Linked DNA regions of Homo sapiens. The gene in region 1 interacts genetically with each later gene. Each region holds a gene or a part of one and is shown in the gene's direction. Other genes may lie near its edges.

Evidence for each region.
Region 2: changes in RAB1A (region 1) and TRAPPC13 are lethal when combined (synthetic lethality), as found in Homo sapiens cells (2 studies listed by BioGRID, with this or other methods).
Region 3: changes in RAB1A (region 1) and VPS52 are lethal when combined (synthetic lethality), as found in Homo sapiens cells (one study listed by BioGRID).
Region 4: changes in RAB1A (region 1) and RIC1 are lethal when combined (synthetic lethality), as found in Homo sapiens cells (one study listed by BioGRID).

The regions. Positions count from the first base shown.
Region 1 is NC_000002.12:65,119,426-65,128,309, reverse strand, and holds part of RAB1A (ras-related protein Rab-1A), read left to right. Parts: intron 1-8,884. UniProt on the Homo sapiens protein: The small GTPases Rab are key regulators of intracellular membrane trafficking, from the formation of transport vesicles to their fusion with membranes.
Region 2 is NC_000005.10:65,661,143-65,666,733, forward strand, and holds the end of TRAPPC13 (trafficking protein particle complex subunit 13), read left to right. Parts: intron 1-907; coding exon 908-1,008; intron 1,009-3,091; coding exon of another isoform or gene 3,092-3,094; coding exon 3,095-3,242; intron 3,243-3,361; coding exon 3,362-3,469; 3' UTR 3,470-5,091; downstream 5,092-5,591.
Region 3 is NC_000006.12:33,261,877-33,269,837, reverse strand, and holds part of VPS52 (vacuolar protein sorting-associated protein 52 homolog), read left to right. Parts: intron 1-18; coding exon 19-94; intron 95-280; coding exon 281-348; intron 349-648; coding exon 649-824; intron 825-1,188; coding exon 1,189-1,339; intron 1,340-1,629; coding exon 1,630-1,730; intron 1,731-1,840; coding exon 1,841-1,973; intron 1,974-2,098; coding exon 2,099-2,156; intron 2,157-2,516; coding exon 2,517-2,650; intron 2,651-2,764; coding exon of another isoform or gene 2,765-2,830; exon of another isoform or gene 2,831-3,106; intron 3,107-3,125; coding exon 3,126-3,281; intron 3,282-4,937; coding exon 4,938-5,056; intron 5,057-5,340; coding exon 5,341-5,464; intron 5,465-5,734; coding exon 5,735-5,830; intron 5,831-5,958; coding exon 5,959-6,066; intron 6,067-6,288; coding exon 6,289-6,354; intron 6,355-7,961. UniProt on the Homo sapiens protein: Acts as a component of the GARP complex that is involved in retrograde transport from early and late endosomes to the trans-Golgi network (TGN).
Region 4 is NC_000009.12:5,624,454-5,633,146, forward strand, and holds the start of RIC1 (guanine nucleotide exchange factor subunit RIC1), read left to right. Parts: upstream 1-4,653; 5' UTR 4,654-4,856; coding exon 4,857-5,000; intron 5,001-5,113; exon of another isoform or gene 5,114-5,274; intron 5,275-8,693. UniProt on the Homo sapiens protein: The RIC1-RGP1 complex acts as a guanine nucleotide exchange factor (GEF), which activates RAB6A by exchanging bound GDP for free GTP, and may thereby be required for efficient fusion of endosome-derived vesicles with the Golgi compartment.

The DNA.
Region 1 (8,884 bases):
TTTGCTATATATATGTTTATTAGTGTAAATAAATCTTCAAGATTAGTTGAGAACTTTGACAAGTTACTCAGCCTCTGAATTTTTTTTCCCTTTTGTAAAATAGGATAATTGGAGTCATTATTCCTGTCAGGGTAGTGGTGAAATTCAAATGTATATAAAAGAATTTGAAAAACCGTGTGAGCATTCTTCAGGTGGTATGCATCATTTTCATGAAAGGCATTCTATTAGTACCAGGATTTAGGAATATAATCCTTGCGCTTAAGAAGTTTAGATATAGGCCAGGCGCGGTGGCTCACCTCAGTAATCCCAGCACTTTGGGAGGCCGAGGCGGGCGGATCCCGAGGTCAGGAGATCGAGACCATCCTCGGTAACACGGTGAAACCCCGTCTCTACTAAAAATGCAAAAAAATTAGCCGGGCGTGGTGGTGGGCACCTGTAGTCCCAGCTACTCGAGAGGCTGAGGCAGGAGAATGGCGTGATCCCGGGAGGTGGAGCTTGCAGTGAACCAAGATCTGGCCACTGCACTCCAGCCTGGACGACAGAGCAAGACTCCGTCTCAAAAAAAAAATTATTTATTGTTTTGAGACGGAGTTTCAATCTTGTTGCCCAGGCTGGAGTGCAATGGCGCAAATCTCCTCTCACCGCCACCTCCGCCTCCTGGGTTCAAGTGATTCTCCTGCCTCAGATTCCCGAGAAGTTGGGATTACAGGCATGTGCCACCACTCCCGGCTAATTTTGTATTTTTGGTAGAGACGGGGTTTCTCCATGTTGGTCAGGCTGGTCTCAAACTCCCGAAGTGATCCGCCCGCCTCAGCTTCCCAAAGTGTTGGGATTACAGGCGTGAGCCACCGCGCCCGGCAGAAATAGATTTTATACATGTCAAATACCAGTAGATATAGCAAATTCCAGATGTGTGGCATGGATGAGAGCAACAAGATTTCAGGGGGATGGTGGGTTGTGGTTGGCTATCTGGGTTTTGGAAGACTTTATAGAAGAGAGACCTGAAAGGGATTTATCAGCAATTAGATTTGGAGGAACAGAGGGAGTGACTAGGAATTTTCAAGGGGGAGAAGAAGGAGGAATGGCTCATAAATGACAAGGACAGTAATTAATAAGTAAATACGGTGTCAAATCATCCTTTCTTTTGAAGACTAATGACCTCAAAGGGATCAAACCCAGAAACAGTTTTTATATTTTTTCTGGGATCAAATACATGGGTATCTGGCCTACTATATTTGTATTCTAGACTGTTTAGTAAAATAATACAGGAATTTGAGAAAACCTTTGCAAAAGTGTTAGTGAAAATTACTTAGGGTGAGAGGAAGTGAGGGATATTTTATTAGGGGAGGTCACAAGGGCAGTGAGCAATCAGATTTTTAGTAATCTGACTTAAGCAGTTTCTTTTTGTTTTAATGAAGCTTGTTATCTTTATAAAAGTAATTAGAGAAAATTTGGAAAATAAAGGAAAGAAAGAAAAGTTCTTTAGTGTTTTATCACGCAAATACAAGCTCATTCGTTTTTAACATCTTGTTCCAAACTCCAAAGTCTTGCTTTCTCTTCAATTAAAACTTTAATGGGTGGATGCTTTTCCTGCTTCCAGTATGTTATCTTAATAACTAACAATGGTATATTAGCTAATGTTTACAAATGTACTCCAGATGTTCCTTAAGTTACTTTGGTTTATCATTACCAATTTATATTGTTTCTTTTAGAAATTTATAATCTTTGTTAATGGGTTCTGCTAAATTTGGTAGTGAAAATGGGATCTTGAGAAAAAAGATTCTGAAGCAACAGAATTTTTAGATTTATATTGGTTTACATAAGAGTTGGTAGCTGTATTACTTTTTTTGTTTGTTTTGTTTTTTTTTTGAGACGGAATCTTGCTCTGTCGCCCGGGCCTTGGCCTCCCAAAGTGTTGGGATTACAGGCGTGAGCCACTGTGCCTGGCTGTTTGTGTTTTTTTTTGTTTTTGTTTTCTTTTCTTTTTCTTTTTTTCGAGATGGAGTCTCACTCTGTCACCCAGGCTGGAGTGCAGTGGCGCGATCTTGGCTCACTGCAATCTCTGCCTCCTGGGTTCAAGCGATTTTCCTGCCTTGGTCTCCTGAGTAGCTGGGATTACAGGCATTTGCCACCATAACCAGCTAATTTTTGTATAGAGTACCCAGCCATCTCTAATGTTGATCAGGCTGAAGCAGGTGGATCACCTAAGGTCAGGAGTTCAAGACCAGCCTGGCCAATATGGCAAAACCCTATCTCTACTAATACAGAAAATTATCTGGGTGTGTTGGCTGGCGCCTGTAATCCCAGCTACTCGGGAGGCTGAGGCAGGACAATCTCTTGAACCTCGGAGGTGGAGGTTGCAGTGAGCCGAGATCACACCATTGCACTCCAGCCTGGGCAACAGAGCAAGACTTGTCTCAAAAAAAAAAAAAAAAAAAAAAAAAAGGCAATTGAAAGTGTAATCTGAACAGTTAAAAAAGTAGATAGAAAGGGTTAAAGCTTTTTTTTGAGGATCTGAAGAAAAATGTGGATTTTTTTTGAGCTACGTTTTGAAGCAGGCAGTGATTATTTCAGCACATTAAGAAATGCTTAACATGGCCAGGCGCAGTGGCTCACGCCTGTAATCTCAGCACTTTGGGAGGCCGAGGTGGGCGGATCATTTGAGGTCATGACCAGCCTGGCCAACATGATGAGACACTGCCTCTACTAAAAATACAAAAATTAGCTGGGTGTGGTGGTGCACGCCTGTAATTCCAGCTACTCAGGAACCTGAGGCAGGAGAGTCACTTGAACCTGGGAGGCGGAGGCTGCAGTGAGTCCAGATCATGCCACTGCACTCCAGCCTGAGGGACAGAGTGAGACTCCTCAAAAAAAAAAAAAAAAAAAGAAAGAAATACTTAACATTATTCTCGTGATTATTCTCATAACATTTTTCATAATCCACTGGCTTCCAGTGGATTTTTTTAGTGTCAAGAAAATAATTTTGATTGGTTCATCTTTAAGGAATGTGTTAAGAATAAAGCATGTCTACCTGTCTTCAGTATACCAGCTAACTATAGTAGGAAGAAATATAGTAGTCTACTTAGATCAACTATAATTCTTTAATGCAGAAAAAGTTTAAAGTATTTACCTTATTTTTAGCCCCCATCCCCTTAAGTATATCATGGCTCCAGAATCTCTGAAAATGTTATCAGTCTTTCAGACTTTGCTCTTCTTTCATGTTATACTCAAGAAACATTTGACCTTTTTTTTTTTTTTTGCTTGCATTGTGTTTCAAATAATTTTTAACAAAACTTAAGTGTTTGAAAGTGAAAGCAGGTTGTCTTTGTGACTTTTGGTGGTGGTTTGAAAAACTCAGAAAAGTTTAAAGAAGAAAGATAACTAGTATTCTCATTGTCCAGAATATGATTTTTTAAATGTCTATAGAATATCACCATCTGTAATTCTTCCGGTAATTTAAGTATTCAGTAGTTGTATAAAACCTTTAAAATATATATATTGAGAATTTTGTGTGAATGAGATGATGAGATAATCTTGTAGGATCATTTAAAGATAAGAACTGAGGCCTGGCACAGTGGCTCATGCCTATAATCACAGCACTTTGGGAGGCCCAGGCGGTAGATCACCTGAGGTCAGGAGTTTGAGACCAGCCTGGCCAACATGGCAAAACCCTGTCTCTACTAAGCATAGAAAAATTAATTGGGTGTGGTCGTGCCTGCGTGTAGTCCCAGCTGCTTGGGAAGCTGAGGCGGGAGAATCTCTTGAACCCTGGAGGTGGGCATTGCAGTGAGCTGAGATTGCGCCACTGCACTCCAGCCTGGGCGACAGAGCAAGACTCTGTCTCAAAATAAAGTAAAATAAAATGAAGATAACAACTGAAATTTCACATTAAAAATTTTTTTGTAGCGACTGTGCCTCCTATGTTGTGCAGGCTGGTCTCAAACTCCTGGCCTCAAGCGATCCTTCCAAAGCACTGGGTGGGCCACCATGTCCAGCCTGAAATTTTGCATTAAAAAATTTCCCGCTTTTGGCTGGGCGAGGTGTCTCACGCCTGTAATAGCAGTTTGGGAGGCCGAGGCAGGCAGATCACTTGAGGTCAGTTCTAGACCGGCCTGGCCAATGTGGTGAAACCCTGCCTCTACTAAAAACACCAAATTAGCTAGGCGTGGTGGTGTGCGCTTGTAGTCCCAAGCTACTGAGGAGGCTGAGACAAGAGAATCGCTTGAATCTGGGAAAAAGAGGTTGCCGTGAGCCAAGATTGGCCACTGCACTCCAGCCTGGGTGACAGAGTGAGATTCTGTCTCAAAAAAATAAAAAATAAAAATTTCCCCCTTTAATCAAATTAAGTTAAAATGAGGGATGTTAGACAGTTTTTAACCATCAAATATTTTAGTTTAGTTTTTTTTTTTAACGTTGTCTTAAAGATGGAAGTGCTTCAAAATCAAATCTTCCTTGCCAGTTCTCTACTTGGCTTCTTTTTTTTTCTTTTTGAGACAGAGTCTCACTTTGTCACTGGAGTGCGTTGGCGTGATCTCGGCTCACTGCAACCTCCGCCTTCCAGGTTTAAGTGATTCTTCCACCTCAGCCTCTCAAGTAGCTGGGAGTACAGGTGTGTGCCACCACACCCGGCTAATTTTTGTAGTTTTAGTAGAGACAGGGTTTCACTATGTTGGCCAGGCTGGCCTCAAACTCCTGACCTCGTGATCCACCCACCTCAGCCAAATTGCTGGGATTACTTGTGTGAGCCACGCGCCTGGCTTCTACTTGGCTTTTAAAGGGAATTTTGCTTTCTGAGTAATTTTATTTCTCAGGTATCTTGGTCTTTTTAATTCTGGAAGCAATCTTAATAATTTATGTATGTGCCCTGTAATCCCAGCACTTTGGGAGGCCGAGGTGGGCGAATCACGAGGTCAGGAGATCGAGACCATCCTGGCTAACACGGTGAAACCCCATCTACTAAAAATACAAAAAATTAGCTGGGCGTGGTGGCAGGCGCCTGTAGTCCCAGCTACTTGGGAGGCTGAGGCAGGAGAATCATTTGAACCCGGGAGGCAGAGCTTGCAGTGAGCCGAGATCGCGCCACTGCACTCCAGCCTGGGCGACAGAGCGAGACTCTGTCTCAAAAAAAAAAAAAAAAAAATTTACGTATGTGCTAACATCCTGCTATATTCACCTTCCATAGCAATCTGTTGGCTGTGTGTTGTGTATGTGTGTGTTTTCTCTTCTGGGTAGTTTTGACTATACCTATGTGATGGTTTCACTATTTGTAGTTTGAATAGTTCAGTTTTATTTTGGATAGTAAAGAAGAGCTTGCTTTTTTTTTTTTTTTTTTTTTGTCTGAGACGGAGTCTTGTTCTGTTGCCCAGGCTGGAGTGCAGTGGTGTGATCTGGGCTCACTGCAAGCTCTGCCTCCTGGGCTCACACCATTCTCCTGCCTCAGCCTCCCGATTAGCTGGGACTACAGGTGCCCGCCGCCAGGCCCAGCTAAATTTTTGCATTTTTTAGTAGAGATGGGGTTTCACTGTGTTAGCCAGGATGATCTCCTGACCTTGTGATCCACCTGCCTCTGCCTCTCAAAGTGCTGAGATTACAGGCGTGAGCCACCACGTCTGGCCAGAATAGCTTTCTTTTGTGGCAAGCTATATACTTTCCTAATATATGAACATGTTTAGGGTAAAATAAGATGCTTCTTAACGTTTTGAGATTTAAAAAAAATTTGCTAATCAACTTTGAGTGTCTGTTTTTTGAGATATAGGGTCTTACTCTGTCACGCAGGCTACAGTGCAGTGATGCAATCATAACTTACTATAGCCTCCAACTCCTAGCCGGGTTTCAGTGATCCTCCCACCTCAGCCTCCTGAGTAGCTGAGAATACAAGCGCGTGCCACCACACCTGGCTAATTTTTTTTTTTTTTTTGTATTTTTTGTAGGGATGGGATTTCAATATGTTGCCCCAGGCTAGTCTCAAATTCCTGGTCTCGAGATCCACCTGCCTCAGCTTCCCAAAGTGCTGGGATTATAGGCATGAGCCCCACGCTTGGCTGAGTGTCTTAAGATGAAGAAAAACTGAAAATGGGTGTAGTGTGCCAGTGCATGAGGTATTTTAAATGTGTAGCTTACCAGCTTTTTTTTTTTTTTTTTTTTTTTTTTTTTTGAGATAGAGTCTTGCTCTGTCACCCAGGCTGGAGTGCAGTGGCACAATCTTGGCTTACTGCAACGTCTGTCTCCCGGGTTCCAGCATTTCTTCTGCCTCAGCCTCCTGAGTAACTGGGACTACAGGCGTCCACCACCACGGCCAGCTAATTTTTATATTAGTAGAGATGGGGTTTCACCATGTTGGCCAGGCTGGTCTCCAACTCCTGACCTCAGGTGATCCGCCTGCCTTGGTCTCCCAAAGTGCTAGGATTACAGGCGTGAGCCACTACGTTTGGCTGCTTATCAGCTTTTTACCACTTTGTCGCCACTACATTTTGGAATTTTCCTTTGAGAATTAGGCAAAATGCCCAGACTCCCCCCCGGCCCCCGCTTTAGAGGGAGAGGGGAGCAATTAGACTATTCCTTTGTTTCCCTATAGAAGGTGGGGCTGAGATTACTGCTTTGATATCTGGAATGTAATTTAGGGAAGAAAATTTAGGTCTTGGCCTTTCTTTGGAACCACCCTGGGAGTGTTGCAGATTATTAATAGGGTAATGGTGGAATGATATTCAGGGGAAAAATGGTCCTGAGGAGCCAGAGAACTAAGTGTTAGTTTGTTGGCTGACTGAAACATGTGAGAGATAGGGTACAGAAGAAGTAGGAAATAGTTTTCCTTGGTACTTCTGTGACAGGTTGGCTCAATTGGCTGGAACACCCTACACTGCTTTATTAAATCCAAGGTTGTGATAGGTTCCAGTTAAGTTTACTGTGTTCTATGCTTGTAGATTTCCTAATTAGGACAAGTAGTGTTAAATATGCATGCCTTTATTCACAAGAGGGACCATTCTTTTGGAAACATCACTTTTTAATAATACTAGGTGCTATTTAGCACTTACTCGGTGCCAGCCACGTGGCTATGGTTTTTTTTTTTTTTTTTTTCGAGACATGATCTAGCTCTGTCTCCCAGGCTGGAGTGGTGGTAGCACAGTCATGGCTCACTGCAGTCTCAACCTCCTGTACTCTAGTGATCCTCCTGTCTCAGCCTCCTGAGTAACTGGCACCATGCCTGGCTAATTTTTTTTTAAGAGATGAGATGTCGCTATGTTGCCTATGCTGGTCTCGAACACCTGGGCTCAAGTGATCCTCCTGCCTGAGCCTCTCAAAGTGTTGGGATTACAGGTGTGACCCACCTCACTTGGCCATCTATGGTCTTTACATAGGGCATTTTGTGCAGTCTGCGTCTCAAACTAGTGATCTTCAACAGTGAAACTCAGTGAATTATGTAATTCATGTTTTCCAAGAACAATGATGGATTTAATTTCTCTGAATGTATTTCCTTTGTATAATAATAGTACTTAAGTGGAATTACTCTTTGTCCTTTCTACTCTCCTTATAGATATTTTCTGGTATCTTGATTTGGGACTGTTACATTTAACCCATTTATGGTCGTGTAGCCATACTCACGTTACATTTGATGCATCTGCTCCCTTTGTGTCTATATACTCATATAACATTTTGCATAAAGTTATAGGCAGTTCACACCAAGGCTGTTCATGAACCTCAGATTAAGAATACTTGATTTAGGAGATTGAAAACAGAAAAGAGAATGTTAACTATCATTATCAATATTAAAATGTGAAAATCTGAGAGTGACAAAGCTTAGCTTTAAATCTGGTATCCCAAACTCATTTGAGTTTTTTTTTTTTTTTTTTTTTTTTTGAGACAAGGTGTCGCTTTGTCCCCCAGGCTGGAGTGTAGTGGTGTGATCTTGGCTCACTGCAACCTCCACCTCCCAGGTTCAAGTGATTCTCCTGCCTCAGCCTCTGAAGTTGCTGGGATTACAGGCTGCGCCACCACGCCCAGCTAATTTTTTGTATTTATAGTAAAGACGGAGTTTCACCTTATTGGCCAGGCTGGTCTCAAACTCCTGATCTTGTGATCCTCCCGCCTCGGCCTCCCAAAGTGCTGGGATTACAGGTGTGAGCCACTGTTCCCGGCCTAATTTGAGTTTTAAAATGTGGAGTTTAAGATGTTAGTCTTAAAGTGGGTTAGATGAAATTTATAAAAATAGTCAAATAGCTAAATTTATAAAAGGCCATTTGAAACAATTTTGTGAAATATATAATGTGGATAATTATGTAGTGCTTTATGTGTAGATTGGTGGTTAGCATCTGCCTGATGAAGAGCAGTTGGATTTCTTACTTACTAAAGCTAGTGAAATCTGAACTCCAAATTAGGCATCTTCACCAGGCTTTTTTGAGCCGAGCTAACTTACTCTCTTTTTTATTTTTATTTTTTAATTAATTAATTTTTTTTTTTTTTTTTTTTTTTTTGTAGAGACAGGATCTCCCCATGTTACCCAGGCTTGTCTCTGGCTCCTTGGCTCAAGCAGTCCTCCTACCTTAGCCTCCCAAAGTGCTAGGATTACAGCTGTGAGCCACTGCGCCAGGCTGAGCTTATTCTCTACTAACACAAGTGTTCTAATTTAATTTAAGCAGTGAATCACACTTTTCTTTGTATTTGGTCAGGTTCTGGGTGCTAGTTTATATATGATTTGATTCATTCTGATAGGGTTTTTTTGTTTTTTTTTGTTTTTGTTTTTTTGTTTTTTTTTGAGACAGAGTCTAGCTCTGTCGCCCAGGCTGGAGTGTGGTGGCTCGATTTCGGGTCATTGCAACTTCTGCCTCCCACCCAGGCTGGAGTGCAGTGGCTCGATTTCGGGTCATTGCAACCTCTGCCTCCCAGGTTC
Region 2 (5,591 bases), on another chromosome or scaffold:
ATAACTGTTATTAAGTGTCTCTCCTTTGGTAACACATGCTCACTCTTCTTCTGATTTCCAAACACATTAAGGTTTTCTATTTTGCAATGTCCTGAAACTCTTGGACTTACTTCATTCACCTACTCAGTTCCTACCATTTTTAAGATGTTAAAAATCTGAGGCATCTCCTCAGAAGGTGAGTTCTACTAAAGTTATCTTATAAGCATTGGTTGCATATTTTACCTAATTTCTTCTCTGAGAGTAGGGATAGCTACCAGGCTTCTTTTTCTTATGCTTGTAAGAATATACGACAGGATTCTCCTCCCTTTATGCTGAATATTACCTGTTTTGACATATTCCAAATTTTACTTTTCTTTCCACTGTTTGAGGCAATAATTTTTAAAAAATGATGATGATGATTCCTGGGCCCACTTAAATATAGCCGTTAGTTATTTTTCTGCCATGGCCTGTTCCAAGCCTTCGTGTTGTTATAATCCATCCTCATCTGTGCGTCTTGTAAAAAGTCATGATTTTCTTCCTGGCTCCTTTCAACATCATCCCCCTCTTTCTTTAGAAAATAACTTTACCTATTTAGAGTTACACACATAGAAGCTACAGCATCTGGAAAGTGTCCCTTCAACTCCCTGAAATTTCTTTACTGACTACTTACCTGTGAGATTCATCTTAACTCTACTGAACATGGAATAATTATATAACAAAAACAGTCCAGGTCTGCCAGGCTATTCCACAGGCAGTAGCTGCAAAAGAATTTAAAATGAGAGACAAGTAAAGTGAATCAGAAGTATTTTCTTAGAACATCAGCTTGGAAACCCAACAGCTGTTGAGTAAATGTGCTGCTGTGGTGCCTTCATTAAAATGGAAAGGTTTTGTGATAGATATACATTAACTGTGTTGCTTGTTTTCTTAGGCTCCAGGTTATGGAGATGTTAGGTTGTCTTTGGAGGCAATACCAGATACCGTAAACCTTGAAGAACCTTTTCATATTACCTGTAAAATAACAAACTGCAGGTAATGCCACTGTTTGTAGATGGATGTCCTTTCTACCTCACCTGCCTAGAAGATAATTTTAAAATCTTTTTGTTACTATCTCCTTTTAAGTTTTCCTCTTGACATACAGCCTTCTCTGATGTTGATATTGAGTACTGTAAAATTCTTCATCTGGTAGCAGTATAATTACATATTTTTAAGGGCCTATTGTATTATGCATCTTCTGTATTTTATTTCATTCATTTGTCACACCCTATGAGGTAGGTATTCATTGTTTATACTTCCTTCACCAAAACATGAACTAATAGGTTCTTATGTATTAATATATTATGAATTGAAGTAGCAAGATTTTTTGAGGCATGCTTGTACTTGAGCTGTATCTTGAGTATTAAGAAACCAAACATTGCTTATGGATTTAATGTAAGGGGAGATCATTGATTCGAAAACTGGGTTTTGACAGTAAAGAGAGAGCATAATCTGAACTGTCAGGAAGCAAAGAGCACAGGGCTTTGAAACCAGAAAAAAATAGAATTAAGTTCCAGTCCTATGCCCTCTGCTCCTACTTGTATTACCACTTGGTTTGTATTATTATTTGGGGTATTTTTATAATATTGCAGTGATGAATCCTAGTCCTCTTAGTGTGAATGTATAATCCTTTTAATTCCATATTTATTCTTTTTGGTATTAGAAAGATAGGAAATATTTATCCTTCAAAATTACAGAAATACCCACTTCCTCTATGAAGCTACCTAGACTTTCCAAAGCACAGGTATTCATGCCTTCTCCATCATAGAAAATTTTAACTTAGTTTTTTAGTGACACTCATATATTGTGTATTTAGTGACACTCATATATTACTGTAAGTATTAGTCTCTTTCTCACTGGACTGGAATTATTCAGGAGAAGGGACATGGCCTTACTCAGTGTCTGCCACATCGTGAGCTCAGTAAACAACAATACAGGGCAAAGACCCTGTGCTTATAGGGTGTTACAGGGTGTTGGGGAATTTTTGGTTTTTTTTTTAAGTTTTTTCAGCAAATCAGTTTATTGACCAGCTCACAAGTGTTATTTTTTTCAAAAGTTAACTTCTCTTGGTGTTCACTTTAACTTTTGGTGATTCATACAAGTTTTCTAAAAAGCACATGTCTCTTAGATCTTTAGTTTCCTCTCTATATAAATGTCATTCCCTGCCCCTACACACCAGGGACATGCACAGACACATGCACACAACATATATAAGTCTTACTGGATTTTTGTGAAATTAACAATATTCATGTAGTGCATCCACCTTGGTCTCTGGCACATAGTAGCCATCTCAAATGCTTGTTAGGGAGATTCAGGCATATACAAGTTAATATTATAAAGTCAATATGTCTAAAAAAAATAAAATTTAAATAAGCAATTTAAAATTTGGAGCCAAGTATAAGAATAAACAGCTAAAAGCCATAAGTAGCCGTGAATGGTGGTAGGAGACTATTTTTCATTATGAGCCTTTTGGTTATTTAAAGAAGAACAATGTGCATACTTTCATTAAAAGTTTTTTTAACTTATTTAAGCTGAACTGGTGATATCTATTATAAGCAGAAGTAGTCTTTTCTTGGTAAATAATCCAGTTAGCAAACCTGAATAGTATTTATGTCTTATGAATCCTGCCAGTTGTTTCCCAAGTTATGGTAAAGTAACATAGATTAGGTATCAAAAGGACTAGACCAGAATCAGTTGTTTTCTTCTTTTCCTGTAGAGTACCTAACAGAAATAGTGAGAATATATGGCAACAAGATTAGACACAAATGTGTGGAAGTCTCCCAGAAAAATGGTAGCACCAGATCAGCACCAGGAGGCCAGTGTTGAGTAATAGAACCAGAAGGCCAACATCCAGACAGGCAGATTAGTCTGAGGCTATTTTAAGTGCTAGAAGGTGTGACTTCCTTTCATCTTCCTGGTTCTATCTTAAGTGACATAAAAAATGTTATAATAGCTTTTCTCTTTCTGGTTTTTATTCTCCTGGATATGGAGAAAACAAGTTTACTGTCACTAGTAGAAATATTGCAGTACCTCTTTGTGAAATGAACAAGATTTATTCCTATTATTCTGATTCCTCCAGCAGTGAAAGGACTATGGATCTGGTTTTGGAAATGTGCAATACCAATTCCATCCACTGGTGTGGAATTTCAGGAAGACAGCTGGGAAAGCTGCATCCAAGTTCTTCGCTCTGTCTTGCCCTTACTCTGCTTTCTTCAGTACAGGGACTGCAAGTATGCTGTCTTTTCAAAAATTCCAATATTTGGGTGCTGTTAACTTACAAGTCATTTGTGATGTCTGTATTTCCTCTGAATGAATGAAAACTTAGACTCATCTCTCTCTCTCTCAATAGAGCATCTCTGGCTTAAGACTAACAGACACATTCTTAAAGAGAACATATGAATATGATGACATCGCACAAGTCTGTGTGGTATCTTCTGCCATTAAAGTGGAAAGCTGAAGGAAACTTCCAATGTTAGGCTTTTCATTTAGTTTCACAGAACTGCTCTTTTTGTTACCTTTGTAAAATGATGACGTCAACAACGAAGTAAATATGTTACTTAAATTTTCTTTCCTGTAAAATGGTTAAAATATTAAATATTTGTTTTGAAGAGATCTGATTTTATCTTGTAATTTATATTTGAAATGAACATGTGTATATTTTCTACACCTATTATTTAATTTCATTTCATTTTAGATGACCATTGGACTTTGTTCTCCAAAAGCTGTGTATCTGAGACCATTTGTCCCTAGCAAGTTATCTAGAACACGAGTCAGCACACTTTTTATGTAAGGTACAAGATACTAAATATTTTAGGCTTTGCAGGCCGTAAGGTTTCTGTCACAAATACTGAACTCTGCCATCGTACTTCAAGAGCAGCCAGTAGGCAAAAAAAGTACAGTGGTGTACACAAAAAGAAGCAGTTGGACTCGGGAAGCTGAGGCAGGAGAATCACTTGAACCGGGGAGGCAGAGGTTGCAGTTAAGCCGAGATCATGCTACTGCACTCTAGCCTGAGCGACAGAGTGAGACTCTGTCTCAAAAAAAAAGAGGCAGCTGGGCAGATTTGGCCTGCAGGGTATAGTTGGCTGACCTCAATCTAGAAGATAGAGTTGTTTCTTAGAACTTTGTAATATTTTGGTTAGAAATATTTCAGTTAACTCCAGTTTTTTCCTAGCTATTCGGTCAGCAGAAAAAGTTTGCTTAAAACAAAGGGGGTAGTCCTCTTATAACCTGATATTTGTCAACACAGTATAAGCTTTCTAGTTGTTTTCAAAATTACTGTAATGGTTTGTGTCTGTATTTGTATATTATACCTACAAACATACATATCTTTCAGCTACTGAACACATCAGAATTGGTTTTACTTTTTAGGTTGTTGATTTTTTTTAATTAACTATTAACTAAGAATAATACTTATTTTCTAATTATAAGCCAAAAACCCCTGGGTTTTTTTCTCATTGATTAAGCCACTTATTTTTATAAGGTATATTTAAATAATTCCCATCTTCTGATATGATTTTAAACTCTAAATCATGTGTTACTGTTACAAAACTTTCTCTCTCCATGTAATCACACTTAGTTATGAGCAAAGCAGTGAGAAAGTTGAGGTGATAAACAACTTTGCAGCATTAATGTAACAAAAAGTTTCAGTATTTGTCAGGAAAACAAAAGCTTAGGCTGTTAAATAAAAGCTATTCTATTTTGGTAAGTTGAAATTCAAGAATGTATATATAATTTCTTAAATGTAAGAGTGCATTAAATCAAATACAAAAATTGGTTTTTCAATGCATCATTATTTATTGCCATAACAAATTGTTTGGTCCAAAATGAAAGCTATATTCAGAAGGTTTGCACCTCAAAATTGAGTAATAATTAATGAAATGTCTGTACAAAATAAAGTGCAAGCAGTGTAAAATTGAAGTCTGTCTTTGTTTCAAAATGATTAAGATTAAATGATGAAATAATATTTTATAGCCACTGCATTGGATACTTGGATTGTTTTTCAAGCATCTTCTTATGACTAAATCTTCTGTTTCATTCTGTTTTAAATCTAAAAAGTAAAATGATGGTCACTTGGAATCTGCTCTATATTTTAATTATAGTCTCTTCTGTTTATAAACAATAACTTACACATATTTTTCATAGTTTTAAGTAAAGATTAAATAATGCCATCTTAGAAAGGATCTGTTTAACCTATATTATAAAAGTTAGATACACAATTTGGTACATTAAATGAAAATGTCATTTGCATATATAGAACCTGTTCTGTTTTACACAGTATCATAATAGCTACAGCTACTACAAGAAATATGGTTAATGGAAGTCAAACATTTAGTACGATGCTTAAAGAGTTACTTTAATAATGCCCTCTTATTTTTCTAGTTAGATAGCAACTATATTTCCCAGACAAGCAAGAAAATATATGGGGCATTTTTTATAAATTTAAAAGTAGCTAGCACAATCCAACCACGCAACTTTTTTTGAAATAGCTTGCAATGCTATGATTCCAAAGTGATCAAGGTACTTGAAGAGCAAAAATGGCTTGAATAGAATGGAAATGTAGGCAAGTGGACAGATAG
Region 3 (7,961 bases), on another chromosome or scaffold:
ATCTTTATGTTCTCCCAGGGTGTAGATCTCCGTCACTATTCAAAGCAAGTTGAGCTGGAGCTACAGCAGATTGAACAGAAATCCATTCGGGATTGTATCCTCCAGCAGAGGGAAGGGGTGGTGCTATTGACATGGGGATTTTGTGGCGTGTGGTACAGATGTCCCAGCTGGGGTCAACATCTCTGAGGTTTCTATCACTTCAAAGAGAAATTGGAGAGGTACTACAAATCTGAGGATCTCCCATCTTCACCATGAGGCCCCTTGACTTTTTGTGGATCAGATATTCAAGAGAGTGAGAATATAGCATCTCTACACAACCAGATCACAGCCTGTGATGCTGTCCTGGAGGTTAGTAATCATGACCTGTGACCCCTAATAGCTACTCTGAACCAGATCATGGACTCTGGTGCCATTTTTAGGTCATCAGCCTCAAGATGGGGACAGGTTAGGGTCATTTTCAAGATGACTTCAGGAGCCTTTTTTGTTATTACTGCCATATTTAATGTTATTTCCTGATAATCTGGGGTGTCTCATCATCTGCCACCCTCAAGGACTGATAAATACTGAAGACTTCACAAAGAGTCTTTGGTGGCCCACTTATCCCCTACAAACCCTATAGCACTCCGGCAACATCTACCCTCCCTACAGCGAATGGAGCAGATGTTGGGAGCTTTTCAGAGTGACCTCAGCTCCATCAGCTCTGAGATCCGGACACTGCAGGAACAGTCAGGAGCCATGAACATTCGACTTCGAAATCGCCAGGCAGTTCGGGGGAAACTTGGGGAGCTTGTTGATGGTCTGGTGGTGCCTTCTGCTCTGGTCACGTGAGTTACCAGTTTGAAGGGTTATAATGTCCATAGCAGGTGGATGGGCTGGGGTGACCCACCCTATTTACCATATGGGTCTCCTGGCTCCAGGTTAAGTGCTTTTTAGAAATTAGTAGCCAGGTTAACCACCATTTCTTTAGGTATGCATTAGGCATCAAAGATTAAGATTAAGAATGATGTAAGATCAGGTGTATAGTGGGGAGGTCCAGGAATAGAAAACTTTGTACATGTGTCCTGACTATATGGTACAATGCAAGGTGGTAGAGATGACAGGGGCTGGAGGTAAGGAGTGTGGTCTGGGTCTGGTTTAGGGATGTCTGGGTCTCCCTTGTAACTCATCCCACCCCTCCCTGCTAACCAGGGCAATTCTGGAGGCTCCAGTGACAGAGCCCAGGTTCTTGGAGCAGCTACAGGAGCTGGATGCCAAGGCAGCCGCAGTCAGAGAGCAGGAAGCTAGAGGCACAGCAGCCTGCGCAGATGTCAGAGGCGTGCTCGATCGGCTCCGGGTCAAGGTGGGAAGTAGGGATGGATACCCTGGAGGCTACTGGAAGCAGCCTTCCCAAGATCTTCACTATGGATTTCCTTGGCAGAGCTCACTGTAGCCTGTCTCCAGGGACTTCACCCTGCCTTTTCTGGGCAGCCCCATTCTTGTCTCTCTGGGTTTCCCTGAAAATCTTGAGAAATACCAAAGAGATATTCACCACCCTTCTGCCTATGTTTACCATTTGTTGCTTCCCCCAGTTCCTCTCATACAGCAAAAGGGTTGCAGCTTCATGCCCTGTGTTTGGTTCCCCACATCTAGGCAGTGACGAAGATCCGAGAGTTTATCCTCCAGAAGATTTATTCCTTCAGGAAACCCATGACCAACTATCAGATCCCCCAGACGGCCCTGCTGAAGTACAGGTCACAACCCCAAGGAAGTGCATGGGATGGCCTTTGAGTTTTTGAGCGGCCTAGTGTGGGCATCTGGTTTCTTGGGAGACAGGTAGACTGACATGTTCCTGACCCCCTAGGTTCTTCTATCAGTTTCTGCTGGGCAATGAACGAGCAACAGCAAAGGAGATCAGGGATGAATATGTGGAGACGCTGAGCAAGATTTACCTGTCTTACTACCGCTCTTACCTGGGGCGGCTCATGAAGGTGCAGGTAAGGTCAGGAGGGAGAGGTATTCCTGGGCACATGGACTGGGAGGAGGGGACATCCCTGGGCAAGGAATATTTTATTGTGTTGTGGGAAGAGACGGTTATCAGTTCTCTTTTCTCTTTCCTTAGTATGAGGAAGTCGCTGAGAAAGATGATCTAATGGGTGTGGAAGATACAGCAAAGAAAGATATCCTAGTACTGGGGAACCCTCATGCCAGGCCTTGAGAGTGGGAGGACTTTCGACTCCAGCCACCAATGCACTGCTCCTTACCTTTTCCTATGGGACTGAAACCTTTTAGAATGTGATGAAAGCTATAGCCTCCCTCCCCAGAAAGATGCACACATTATTTTGACACATAGTTTTGCATATGATTGCAAGGGAGGGAGAGACACCCTGAAGCCCATTCACAGATGTCAGCACGTGGGGCCCTAGTACTGGGAAAGAGGGCTGGCTAGGCCACGTCTGCCTGTCTGGGGTCCCCACAGATAGTGAGTCTTTGGGCCCAGTTATGGTCTCATTGTTTTCCCTGACTCTGACCCATCTTACGATTCTTCTCAAAGCCATCGCTCCGCAGCAGGAACACCATTTTCACCCTAGGAACCCGCGGCTCTGTCATCTCCCCCACTGAACTTGAGGCCCCCATCCTGGTGCCTCACACAGCGCAGCGCGGAGAGCAGAGGGTATGAGGAGGAACAAGCTTCAGTCACGAAAGAGGCTCTGAGCACGGTGGGGAGGGAAGGCCAGACCTCAGGGCAGAGCTTCCCAACCTGCAGGCCCTGTCTTAATCCCCTTAGACTTGGGAGTGGCCTTCTCCAATCACTCCAGCCTGCTGTGATGTGAAAAGAGCTGGGAACCATTGACTTAAGGGCATGCAGAGGGGAGAGACTGGATGAGGGGAATGACAGTCAGAGGCAGGTGTTGAGGTGGATGCAGGAGTAGCAACAGCAGGTGGGTGTAGGCCCTTTTTGTACCCCTATGTTCCCCCACCTTTTCAGTGCCCATTCAGCTTGCTCTTAGACAGCCCGGACCTAGATAGATGCGAAGGGTCTGCCTAGCTCTTATTACTCAGGTTTACTGATTTTCCAGCCATATCCATGGGAAGTCAGTGTTGGGGTCCATCCCTTCTGTTTTTCTTCTTTACTCCTCCTCTCCCAGTATCCATTTGAGGCCCTCTTCCGCAGCCAGCACTACGCCCTCCTAGACAATTCCTGCCGCGAATACCTTTTCATCTGTGAATTTTTTGTTGTGTCTGGCCCAGCTGCACACGACCTGTTCCATGCTGTCATGGGCCGTACACTCAGCATGACCCTGGTAAGACTCCTGTTTCCTGTACCATTCAACACCTTTGTCCCCAGTCTTCATCAGCAGCATAGTGGGGTCATGACTCTGGTAGAACTGAAATCAGGATCGCCTCATTCTAAAATGTCTAAGCCTTGGCTGGGCGTGGTAGTGCACACCCATAATCCCAGCACTTTGGGAGTCCAAGGCAGTAGGATTGCCTGAGCTCAGGAGTTTGAGACCAGCCTGGGCAACAACCTCATCTCTACAAAAAATGAAAAATTAGCCGGGTGTGTGTTGATGTGTGCCTGTGGTCACAGCTACTAAAGATGCTGAGGTGGAAGGATTGCTTGAGCCCAGGAGGTCAAGGCTGCAGTGAGCCATGCACTCCAGAGTGAGACCTGTCTCAAAAAAAAAAAAAAAAAAAAATAGCCAGGTGCAGTGGCTTACGCCTGTAATCCCAGCACTTTGGGAGGCTGAGGCGGGAGGATCACAAGGTCAGGAGTTTGAGACCAGCCTGACCAACATGATGAAACCCTGTCTCTACTAACAGTACAAAAATTAGCCAGGTGTGCGCGGCCTGTAATCCCAGCTACTCGGGAGGCTGAGGCAGGAGGATTGCTTGAACCTGGGAGGAGGAGATTGCAGTGAGCCAAGATTGCGCCATTGCACTCCAGCCTGGGTGACAGAGCGAGACTCCATCTCAAAAAAAAAACTTGTTACTTAGACTTGTCACAGTGTTACTCCCCCATGAAATCCTCAGTGCGTAGGGTCCCTGAGACTACCCCTACTGCTGACCCACAATCAGGCAATAGCACGTGAAAACTGAGGGTCCCCCAAATCTTGGTGCTCAAACCCCTGACCCAAGCTCAGCCCTGAACTCTGCTGTGATAGGCTTGTGATCATAGATCCTGGTGTGGCCAGGTGCAGTGGCTTATGCCTGCAATCCCAGTACTTTGGGAGACCAAGGCAGGAAGGTTGCTTGAGGCCAGGAGTTCGAGACCAGCCTGGGCAATGCGGCAAGACCTTGTCTCTACAAAAAATTTAAAAATAAACTTAACCAGGCATGGTGGTACACACCCATGGTCCCAGTTGCTTGGCAGGCTGAGGTGGGAACATCACTTGAGCCCAGATGTTTGAGGCTGCAGTGAACTATGATTGTACCATTACAATCCAGCCTAGGTGACAAAACAACCTGTCTCTAAAGCCGAAAACACCGGGTGCAGTGGCTCACACCTGTAATCCCAGCACTTTAGGAGGCTGAGGTGGGCGGATCGCCTGAGGTCAGGAGTTCGAGACCAGCTTGACCAACATGATGAAACCCCATCTCTACTAAAATACAAAAATTAGTCGGGCGTGGTGGCAGGCGCCTATAATTCCAGCTACTCAGGAGGCTGAGGCAGGAGAATTGCTTGAACCTGGGAGGCAGGCGGAGGTTGCAGTGAGCCGAGATTGTGCCACTGCATTCCAGCTTGGGTGGCAAGAGTGAAACTCTATCTCAAAAAACAAAAAAAAAGCCAAAAACATAGATCCTGGACAGGAAAGCAGGGGGCAGTTCCATTTTACGTCTCTCCCTTCTGTCCTGTCCAGTGCATCATCCCCAAAGAAACAAATGCGTTTGTTCATAGTCACTGAGGACAACAAACTGACATTCTCTTTTAATCCTCTGTTTGTTCCCCAATCACACAGAAACACCTGGATTCTTATCTAGCTGACTGCTACGATGCCATTGCTGTTTTTCTCTGTATCCACATTGTTCTCCGGTTCCGTAACATTGCAGCAAAGAGGGATGTTCCTGCCCTGGACAGGTCACTGAATTCTGGTCCTTGATGCCCAACAGGCCACGAACTCTCTTGGTCTTGCATGACTCTGCCCTGACCTTAGACTCCTACTGACCTGGTATCATCAACCTTTATTCCCATTCATTTGCTCCGGAGGCAGTAGTGCTGCTTTTTGACTCACCTTTCTCCAACCACTGCCCCCCAACCCCCACAACTAGCTATTGACCATTAAACTGAATGATGCCCCACTCCCTCCCATCCCCCTCCAACATTCCTTGCTGGCTGACCTCTGATTCTGATTAAGCCCACAGGTACTGGGAACAGGTGCTTGCCTTGCTATGGCCACGGTTTGAACTGATCCTGGAGATGAATGTTCAGAGCGTCCGAAGCACTGACCCCCAGCGCCTAGGGGGGTTGGATACTCGGCCCCACTATGTGAGGGAGGGCAAGGGTAACAAAGGGTTCTTGAAAGGCAGGGCTCTAAGCATCATTGTGGGGGTTGGCCAAGGTCACAGTTGTGTCATGGGCCACGCTATGAGCAGGTGTTCTGGGAGGGTGGTGAAACTCATGGTGAGTGGTGCACTGTGGGTAGGAGGGACTGAAGGTAGAGTCACATCACATGGAGGTGGGTTGGCTAAGGAAGTTGGGAGGTTGTGTTGGTTGGGCCAGGAGGTGGGTGTGATTTTCCTTCCCACTCTCTCCTAGATCACACGCCGCTATGCAGAGTTCTCCTCCGCTCTTGTCAGTATCAACCAGACAATTCCTAATGAACGGACCATGCAATTGCTGGGACAGCTGCAGGTGAGGGTCGGACAGGAGACACTTCCCAGCAGCAGGGCTGCTTCCAGTGGGTGGAGTCTGAGGAGGAGCCAGATGGGGCCCAGATGACCTTGCTTTCTGGTGTCACCTCTTCCTCTCTGCCTTTTCAGGTGGAGGTGGAGAATTTTGTCCTCCGAGTGGCAGCTGAGTTCTCCTCAAGGAAGGAGCAGCTTGTGTTTCTGATCAACAACTATGACATGATGCTGGGTGTGCTGATGGTAATAGGTGCTCCTTCTCCTTGCCTTCCTACCCAGAAAATTCGGTTTCCCCCACTGCTGTTAGCTCTGTGAGGGCAGAGATGATGCCTGTCTTGTTCAGTGTTTTACTCTTGGAGTCTGGCACAGTGTCCAGCTTAGTACAATAAGTGTGGAATGAAGGGGACATCCTGAAGTGAAGGACTGCTTTCCCCAAACTAGACATTTCCCTTTGTCTTCCCTTAGGAGCGGGCTGCAGATGACAGCAAAGAGGTTGAGAGCTTCCAGCAGCTGCTCAATGCTCGGACACAGGTAGGGGTGTGGGGAAAAGGGAAGAGACAGCCTTCTGTGCTGTTTTCAGCTCTCTCTCTCTCTCTCTCTGTGTGTGTGTGTGTGTGTGTGTGTGTGTGTAGGGAGTGGCATAATGGATCTCAGGTATGCGGAATTACTGTAACTCTTGATTCACAACATACTGTCATTATTGGTCTATTTTATTTTATTTTGTCTTTGGTTTTTTTTTTTTTTTTTTTTTGAGGCAAAGTGTCACTCTGTCACCCAGGCTGGAGTGCAGTGGCATGAACATGGCTCACTGCAGCCTCAACAGCCTGGGCTTAAGTGATCCTTCTACCTTAGCCCCCTGGGTAGCTGGGACCACAGGTGCGAGCCACCATGCCTAGCTAATTTTTTATTTTTAGAATGAATTTTATTTTTTTCTTTATCTATCCTCTCAAGCATTTATCCTTTGTGTTATAAACAATCCGATTACACTAAGTTATTTTAAAATGTACAATTAAGTTATAATTGACTATAGTCACCCTGTTGTGCTGTCAAATAGTAGGTCTTATTTATTCTTCCTATTTTTGTTTGTACCCATTAATCATCCCCACCTTCTCCCCAGCCTTCCACTAGCCTTCCCAGCCTCTGGTAGCCATCCTTCTACTCTCTTCGTACATGAGTACATGAGTTCAATTGTTTTGATTTTTAGATTCCACGAATCAGTGAGAACACATGACGTTTGTCTTTCTGTGCCTGGCTTATTTCACTTAATATAATAATTTCCAATTCTATGCATGTTGTTGCAAATGACTGAGTCTCATTCTTTTTTATGGCTGAGTAGTACTCCATTGTGTATATATCCCACATTTTCTTTACCCATTCATCTGTTGATGGACACTTAGGTTGCTTCCAAATCTTAGCTATTGTGAACAATACTGCAACAAACATGGGAGTGCAAATATCTCTTCAATGTACTGATTTCCTTTCTTTTGGGTATATACCCAGCAGTGGGATTGCTGAATCATATGGTAGCTCTACTTTTAGTTTTTTGAGCAACCTTCAAACTGTTCTCCAAAGTGTTTGTACTAATCTACATTCCCACCAACAGTGTATAAGGGTTCCCTTTTCTCCACATCCTTGCCAGCATTGCTATTGCCTGTCTTTTGGATAAAAGCCATTCTGACTGGAGTGAGATGAGATCTCATTGTAGTTTTGATTTGTATTTCTCTGATAATAGTGATGGTGAGCCCCTTTTCATATATGTCTGTTTGCCATTTGTATTCTTTTGAAAAATATCTATTCAAATCTTTTGCCCATTTTTTAATAGGATTATTAGACTGTCATGTAGAGTTGTTTGAGCCCCTTATATATTCTGGTTATTAATCCCTTGGCAGATGGGATGTGCAAATATTCTTTGTCTCTTCACTTTATTGTTTCTTTAGCTGTGCAGAAGCTTTTTTTTTTTTTTTTTTTTTTTTTGAGATGGAGTTTTGTTCTTGTTGTCCAGGCTGGAGTGCGATGGTGCGATCTCAGCTCACCGCAACCTCCGCCTCCCAGGTTCAAGCAATTTTCCTGCCTCAGCCTCCTGAGTAGCTGTGATTACAGGCATGTGCCACCATGCCTGGCTAATTTTGTATTTTTAG
Region 4 (8,693 bases), on another chromosome or scaffold:
CTACCCAGACCATTAAAACTTTCTCCAGGTCAGCAACAAGGCTGTTTTGTTTTATCATTCCTATGTTCTCCAAAGTGGTACTTTTACTTTCCTTTAAGAACTTTTTTTCCTTTGCATTCATAACTTGGCTAACTGGTACAAGAGGCCTAGCTTTTGGCCTATCTTTGCTTTCAATATGCCTTCCTCACTTAGTTTAATCATTTCTAGCTTTTTACTTAAAGTGAGAGACGGGGATTCTTTCTTTCACTTGAACACTTAGAGGCTACTGTTGGGTTACTAACAGGCCTAATTTCAATATTGTTGCATCTCAGGGGATAGGGAGGCCCAAAGAAAGGGAGAGAGACAGAGGAACTGCCAGTTGATGGAACAGTCAGAACACACATAACATTTATCGCTTAAGTTCTCCATCTTACATGGATGTGGTACATGACACCCCAAAACAATTACAATAGTTACAACAAAGACCACTGACCACAAATCATCATAACAGATATACTAATAATGAAAAAGTTTCAAATATTGAAAGAATTACCAAAATGTGATAAGAGCCATGAAGTGAGCATATGCTATTAGAAAAAATGGTGCCAATAGACTCACTCAACACAGGGTTACCACAAACCTTATATTAAAAAAAAAAATTGCACCAAATCATACTTCCATCAAGAGAGTATAAATGTATCCCCATTTCTTATGTGTACTCTTACCAACATTATTTCTAGTAATTTAAAAAGTTTATAAGTTTCATAGATGAAAACATGCACCTAGTAACTTTTTTTTTTTTTTTTGAGACAGGATTTCATTCCTTTCACTCAGGTGGGAGTGCAATAGCATGATCTTGGCTCACTATTACCTCTGCCTCCCAGGCTCAAGCAATTCTCCTGCCTTAGCCGCCTAAGGGGCTGGGACCACAGGTGTATGCCACAGTGCCGACTGATTTTTTGTAGAGACAGGGTTTCACCATGTTGCCCAGGCTGGTCTCAAACTCCCGGGCTCAAGTGATCCGCCCACCTCTGCCTCCGAAAGTGCTGGGATTACAGGCGTGATTACCCTGCCCGGCCCCCTACTAACTTTTATCATAAGCTTAATCTTAGAACAGAGTCCAAAAATTTTGACAGGAGTGGTGGTGGAAACTAGTAGAAAAAGGAGGAGAAGACCTAAGGCATGAGAACTGTCAGTATATTTTACAAAATAAAGTTAAAATATGATATTTGAAAGTTGAAGCCAGGCACGGCGGTTCACACCTGTTATCCCAGCACTTTGGGAGGCCGAGGCTGGTGGATCATTTGAGGCTAGGAGTTGGAGACTAGCCTGGCACATGATGAAACCCCATCTCTACTAAAAATACAAAAACTAGACAGGCGTGGTGGTGCATGCCTGTAGTCCCAGCTACTCAGGAGGCTGAGGCACAAGAATCACTTGAACCCGGGAGGCGGAGGTTGCAGTGAGCCAAGATTGCACCACTGCACTCCAGCCTGGGTGACAAAGCAATGCTCTGTCTCAAAAAAAAAAAAAAAAAGAAAGAAAGAAAAAGAAATGATGTTGAAAAATCCAGCCAATAACATTTTTGTCACAATAGGGGAACTCTCAAGTATAGGGTTTTGGAGAGTCAGATATTTCCTTTTCTCCCCGCCAGGGAGAAAGACCTAGAGGTTTCCCCCACTCCCTCTCACTGTCCAGAGCAATTACCACAATTTAGTTCAGCCTAAAGAGCATATGCTGTTGGAAAAACAGCAACAATAGACTTACTTGATGCAGGGATGCCATAAGCCTTAATTTTTTTTTTTTTTTTTGAGACAAAGTCTCACTCTGTTACCCAGCCTGGAGTGCAGTGGAGCGATCTCGGCTCACCGCAACCTCTGCCTCCCAGGTTCAAGCAATTCTCCTGCCTTATCCTCCAGAGTAGCTGGGATGACAGGTGCATATCACCATGCCTGGCTAATTTTTGTATTTTTTTTTTTTTAGCAGAAAGACAGGGTTTCACCATATTGGCCAGGCTGGTCTCAAACTCCCGACCTCATGATCCGCCTGCCTTGGCTTCCCAAAGTTTTGGGATTACAGGCATGAGCCACCGCGCCCAGCCAAACCTTAAATTTTTAAAAAAATCACACAGGAGGCTGGGTGCGGTGGCTCACGCCTGTAATCCCAGCACTTTGGGAGGCCGAGGTGAGCGGATCACCTGAGGTCGGGAGTTCCAGATCAGCCTGACCAACATGGAGAAACCTCGTCTCTACTAAAAATACAAAATTAGCCAGGCATGTTGGTGCATGCCTGTAATCCCAACTACTCCAGAGGCTGAGGCAGGAGAATTGCTTGAACCCAGGAGGTGGAGGCTGCAGTGAGCTGAGATGGCACCATTGCACGCCAGCCTGGGCAACAAGAGCGAAACTCCACCTCAAAAAAAAAAAAAAAGAAAGAAATCACACTGGATCTGTAGAAAGAACATCAGTTCTTTTCAGGCCATGTGAATTCAGGCACATCTACCACACCTGTCCTGTTTCCTCACTTGAGAAAGTGAGAATAACAACATCACACCAATGTCACTCACCTTGAATGTTTACTATGAATTAAATCAAGACAAGCATTTGGAATTATTTTGTGAATCTTAAGTGCTACACAGGAGTGTGGCAGAGGAATAAGCTTCTAAAGTCAGCAAGTAAGGTTAAAATTGAGTGCAATAAAAATTGCTTAGAAGTTCCTTAAATTGCCCATGAGCACAGTATGACAAACTTGAGACACATGAGAACAAAGACTCTCTGAGAGACAGCTGGGACAAACATTCAGTAACACTGCCAGCAAAATTGCTGCACTAGAACATTTTCATTTCCTCTTTCTGCCAAGTGCATAACTGAATCTAAGATGAAAGTATGATGCAACTTTGTTATTCTACAATTTGAAATTGGCAAGTTAAGAAACCTCTCTGGGCCTCTTTGTCTAATGGTGTAGCTCAGCTGGATCAGGGTTTCCTCCACGGTTTGTCTGACAAATACTGCCAGCTTACTATGCTTACTATGTTCCAGGCTGCTGTGTTGGACTGGGGGAGGGTAGACGCCAAGGAGACAATCTGATCGCAACAGGCTGGTGAGTGGTGAGGCAGTTTCAACCTCCATTTGAGGAATACAGGATTCTATCATCACCTTCCAGGGAATGCAGTGAATGTTTAGAAAAATTACAGAAAGTTACATATTTGGTTATGAATACCAGCTACAATGCTATATCTAATATGAATTAAGTTTCTTTGTTTCCTTTTTTCTGTTTATGTTGCTACTTTTTTTTTTTTTTTTGAGACAGTCTCACTCTGTTGCCCAGGCTGGAGTGCAGTGGAGGGATCTTGGTTTGCTGCAACTTCCGCCTCCCAGGTTCAAGCGATTCTCCTGCCTTAGCCTCCTGAGGAACTGGGATTACAGGCACCTGCCACCACGCCCAGCTAATTTTTGTATTTTCAGTAAGACGGGGGTTTCACGATGTTGGCCAGGCTGGTCTCGAACTGCTTACCTAAAGTGATCTGCCCGCCTCGGCCTCCCAAAATGCTGGGATTACAGGCGTGAGCCCCAGCACCCCGCCTACGTTGCTACTTTTTAATGTGGGGTCATTTTTTAAACCTGGCTTTTTAATTGAAAAAGTAATACAAACATATGGAAAAATTCAAACTGTACTAAAAAAGGTAGACAATGAGAAGCAAATCTTTCTTCTATTTCAGACTCCTCCTTCCCCCATTCCACACCATATCCCCTCAACCCTCCTTCTATTCAGACGTTACCACTGGGTCAATCCGTTGAAAGTTACAGCTAAGGTGATACCTGGGGTCCAAAAGCTAAATATGGACCTACGCTATCACCAGTCCCTTCCAGTTCTAAAACTAAGTCCAAGCCTTTTGCAGCACGAAAGAGATAGCCTCCTCTCATCTAAAGTTATGGCTGGTAAGGCTGAGACGAATGGAAATGGATTTCAAAGACATAGATTTAGAACTCCTGAAAGGCAGGAGACAGAACTCAATACTTTCATGGTGAGTGGTTTATTTACTGATTAAATAAACGCTCCCTTAGGGATGTAAGCTCCACACCGGCAGGAGCTTCATCACCAGCTCTCACTGCAGACCCCGGCATTAAAGGAGCTCACACGGTAAAAGCCCCTACCGCCCACCACAGCCACAGCGGCCGGCAGCCCAAAGTGGGAAACCGCGCCGGCCGTCACGTGACTCCAGCTCCCCCCGGCAACCGGCCCGCCCCCACCGAGACCCCGCCAATCCGGAAGGGAGGTCCAATTTGGCCAGGCCAGGGCGTGTTCCACCGGCCCAGTAGCCTTGCTGCTGCGTTATCCCTAGACTCGCCCCACTTGCCTCGGAGTCTCAGGCCGTTGCCTAGGTCCTCCCGGTAAAACCCTGGAGACTGCTAGGGAGAGGAGCAAGGGAGGGGCCAGCGCGCAGAAGTGCGGACGCAACCCGGCGGCCGCGGGCGAGGCTTATGCAGAGCTTCAAGAAACAGCTAGGGAGACCGCAGGAGTCTCCAGAGCGCGCGCGCGGGCCCTCCCCGGCCCGACCCACGCGGCGCGGCGTGGTGACGCCCGCGCGGCCTGAGGAAGGGGCGGGGTCGGGGCGGGCCTCCGCGCTCCTCCCGCCCTCTCTGTGTCCCTACTCTCCCTCCCCTTCCCTCCCCCACACTCGGCCCCGTCAGCTTGGGGGTGCCTTCGTCGCGCAGCCTTGCGTCGGCCCGGCCCGGCCAGGCCAGCGGGCAGATGCCCCGAGCTGCCGCCGCCGCCGCCGCCGACTCGGCCGGTGGCGGTGTGGGAGGTGGGCGACCAGCCCGGGGCCGCTGAGTGTGACGGACGCAACTGGGGGCGCCGGGGGCTCCGCACGGACCATGTATTTTCTGAGCGGCTGGCCCAAGAGGCTGCTGTGCCCTCTGGGGAGCCCGGCCGAGGCGCCTTTCCACGTTCAGTCCGACCCGCAGAGGGCTTTCTTCGCCGTGCTGGCCGCGGCCCGCCTCAGCATCTGGTACAGCCGAGTAAGTAGAGCCGCCCGCCGCCTTTCGCCGCTGCCTCCCCGGCCTCCCGGCGCCGTCCCACCCCCAACTTCCACCCAGAGCCTAGGACTCCTGCCCCTTCGTGCCAGACCCACCTGCCTTCGCAGTCCGCGTCCTCGTTCCACCGAATTGGCCGCAGGTACCCGCCGGCTGCAGGCACGTCCTCCAGCCGGCGGTCCGGGGTGGATGAAGTCGCTGCTGCCGAAAATCCCTGAGCCTCCCCGCGTTGGACCGACGGCCGCGGCGTGCAGACTCCGCACGCTCCCCGGCCGAGCCCAGACTTGTTCTTCTCTCCCTTCCCCCATTCCCCGAGGGACAAATTTGTTTAAACTTTCCACAATTAGAAATCCGGCCGCTGTGGTGCCCCAACCCTCCCTTACTTTAAAGGTCGCCGTTTTGGAGTTAGGGAAAGCCTCTTGGGCTTTACCCAGCGCCAGACTTTACAGGCCTGTAATAACTTATTTCTACAAACTACAGCCTGAATTCTTTATTCTTCACTAAAGGTCTGGTTATTTAACTCCCCTCTTTAACCCCAACATCCCTTCCCCACTTTCGAGTTGGTCTTTTTCTTTGCTGCTGCTCTTGGACTCTTCGGAATAGGGGGTTAAAGGAGCGGAAGTAGAACTCAAATCTGTCCGCGGAACTCCCAGTTATAACACCTGGAAATAATAAGGCTTGGGAGGAGCATGGAACTGAATTCTGTTTTTGCTTTAAGTCCTGGTTATCTTTTTCTTTCTTGTATTGAATTACTGAGTAGATATGAGAAAGAAATAAGTGGTGGATGGGATACTCCCTACTCTCTGCAAACACTGCTATAACTTTGTCTATGAGAACGACAGAGTTCAGAGTATAAAAATGCTTTTTTTCCTCCCCAAAGAAGGCAGTACCAATCGATGTCAGAGTGAAGTTTTTCTCCTTTCCAAGTTAATTTGACCATGTGGGGATAGGTTGTGATCTTGTCCTTATTAGGTGTTCGTGAAATACTGGTTTTAGTTTGTTAAAATCCCCAAATCTTTGTGTGTTGCTGTTCCATTACCTGTAATGCCCTTGACAGTCCTCACCCACTTCCCTGGTAATACTGGTGATGGGATTTAGTGACGGGTAATTCTGGTGTCTCCTTTGACTGTCATAGTTGGGCTGTAAATCAGACTATTTGCCATCAAGTTTTGGCTGATCTAATTTTCAAATGCAAATCAGAACAAAACAAACTTATAAAATCGTAATACCAACAATATGACTATTTTGTCTAGTGCCTGATTGTATTTTGAATATATATGTATGTATGTGTGTGTGTATATATATAAACATATGTGTAAATATATATAAAGTATCATCTGGTTCCTAAATGAGATATTCGTTTACAATGTATATGCCAGTTGAATAATTTTTAATTTGTTTAGGTGTATATAACTCAACTTTAAAGCACATGCAGAAAAAAATAGAACTTGAATTTAAATTGTCTTTTGAATTTAATACATAATTCCTTTTGAATGTAACAAATTTAGACTTTCGTCTAAAATTTAACTTTTCTTACCTTTAAAAAGGCAGACCTAACTTAATTTTAAATAAAAGTAAACAATATGACCTATGAATTGACCAGAAGCCTGTAAACCACTTTATTCCCCCATAAGAGAAGCATAAACATATGCTTTAATTTAGGGACATTGTGAATATTCTTAAGCATGTCTATTGTTTGGTTTTGGAGTTACATACGACATCTAGAAATCCAAGGCAGTTCTGGAATTTAAACTATTCATACTCTTCTTTCAAATTCCCACCTCACATGCAACTTCCTTTTTCCACAGAAGTCCAGGGACCCCTACTATTAAGTTCTGTTGTGCAAAAGTTAGGCTGTAGGGAACCCATGGGTTTAGAGGTCTGGAGTGAAATGAAATGCAGGAATACCTTAGAGGAGGCTGTATAGTACTGTAGTATGAGTGGTTAACCTTGGTCTCTGGGCACCAGCTTTGTTGTCACTGAAAAAAATCAGATATTCACGAGGTCAAGAGATCGAGACCATCCTGGCCAACATGGTGAAATCCCGTCTCTACTAAAAATACAAAAAAATAGCTGGGCGTGGTGGTGCACGCCTATAGCCCCAGCTACTCGGGAGGCTGAGGCAGGAGAATCGCTTGAACCCAAGAGGCAGAGGTTGCAGTGAGCCAAGATCCCACCACTGCACTCCAGCCTGGCGACAGAGCAAGACTCTGTCTCAAAAAAAAAAAAAAAAAAAAATCAAATATTGAACCAAGTGATTATAAGGTGTATGATTACATGCCTAGGTGAGTGGGATACATATGCTAGACTCCAGCTTCCAATCTTCTCTTCCTGGGATATGCCCTTTCTTACTCTGTATGAAAGTTTTCATTTTGATTTTCTAATTTGTAAACTTCCTGAAAGTATGTAAGTTAATTAGGTTAACAAACTTCATTTAAAAGTGAAAATGCCTTTAGGTAAATTAAAGGGCTATCAGTTATACTTCCATAATTTAGAGTGAATTGGTTTAAAAAGTTCTCATGGAGCTGCTAAAAGCTTTGATTTTTGAGAGGCTGTAGATACAAGTAGTTTTATAATAATATGTGAAGATCTACAGGATTTTACAGAGTTGAAGTCTTACAGCTGCTTGAGGGCATTTGAAGGCAGGGAGACATGCTCGTAGAGATGATAAAACAAGATTTGCTTACCTGAAATTTTGTTAGGGCTCACTTAGTAAATCAGGCTCTCTTAGGAGTGATATATTTTAAAAAGAGACAACTAGCCTTGTGGAAGGGACAGTCGTTTAGTAGTCTAAGCTGGTTGTTTCAATGTTCAAAAGAATTGTGGAAATTGTATGTGTACAGTGATAATTCATAAGACTGAATCTCTATTAAAATCTCTAACTGTACATTATATGGGTCTTCTAATGAACTTTTATGTACTACTTATACCTACTGTCCTCTATTCTAAGTAGGTATTCGGAATTCCACTGTTTAGACTCATATCTCTTCAGAATTATTTCCTACCCCAAATTTGAGAAATACAGTATAGTGTTGTTTATGAACAAAAGAGCCTCTAGATAGTTACTTAGCTTTTTTATATTGGAGCCCCAATATTATATTTTGGAGCCCCCCAAATGGTGTTAAAAAAAGGCTCAGTATGTGTAGGCTAGATTGGGGTGGTAGAGGTAGAACTTGACTGGGGGCAGTTGGTACATTTCTGCTAAGGTTATTGTAAAAGGACTAGTTTCAGCTTTGAGGATGAAACTGTTGCATAAGGTAGGTTATGATTTATGATTGACGTAGGTGTAGTGTGAGATGAATTACATTTTGTACTGTACTGAGGGCCCAGAATTATTCCTTTAATATACTAACTGTGACTATGAAAGTCTATATATGTGAACATCAGAATGGTATCTTTGAATTTAGCCATTCTAAATTAGATGTATAGACATTCTCGTTTTTCAGGTCACCGACTTTAAACATTTAAATTAGCTTCAGAAGTATTTTTGAACATCAACTGTAAAAGACAGATGTGTATAAAAGGGATGAAGAGACATGTTATATGTTAGTGTGTTAGATGTTAGTGTGTTAATATAAATCTTGTGAGATATCACTGTTGTAGGTAGCTAATAAAAAGCTGAAATGGGCAAATAATTACTAGGCTTATAAAATAAATTATATGTCGTTTAGTAATCCT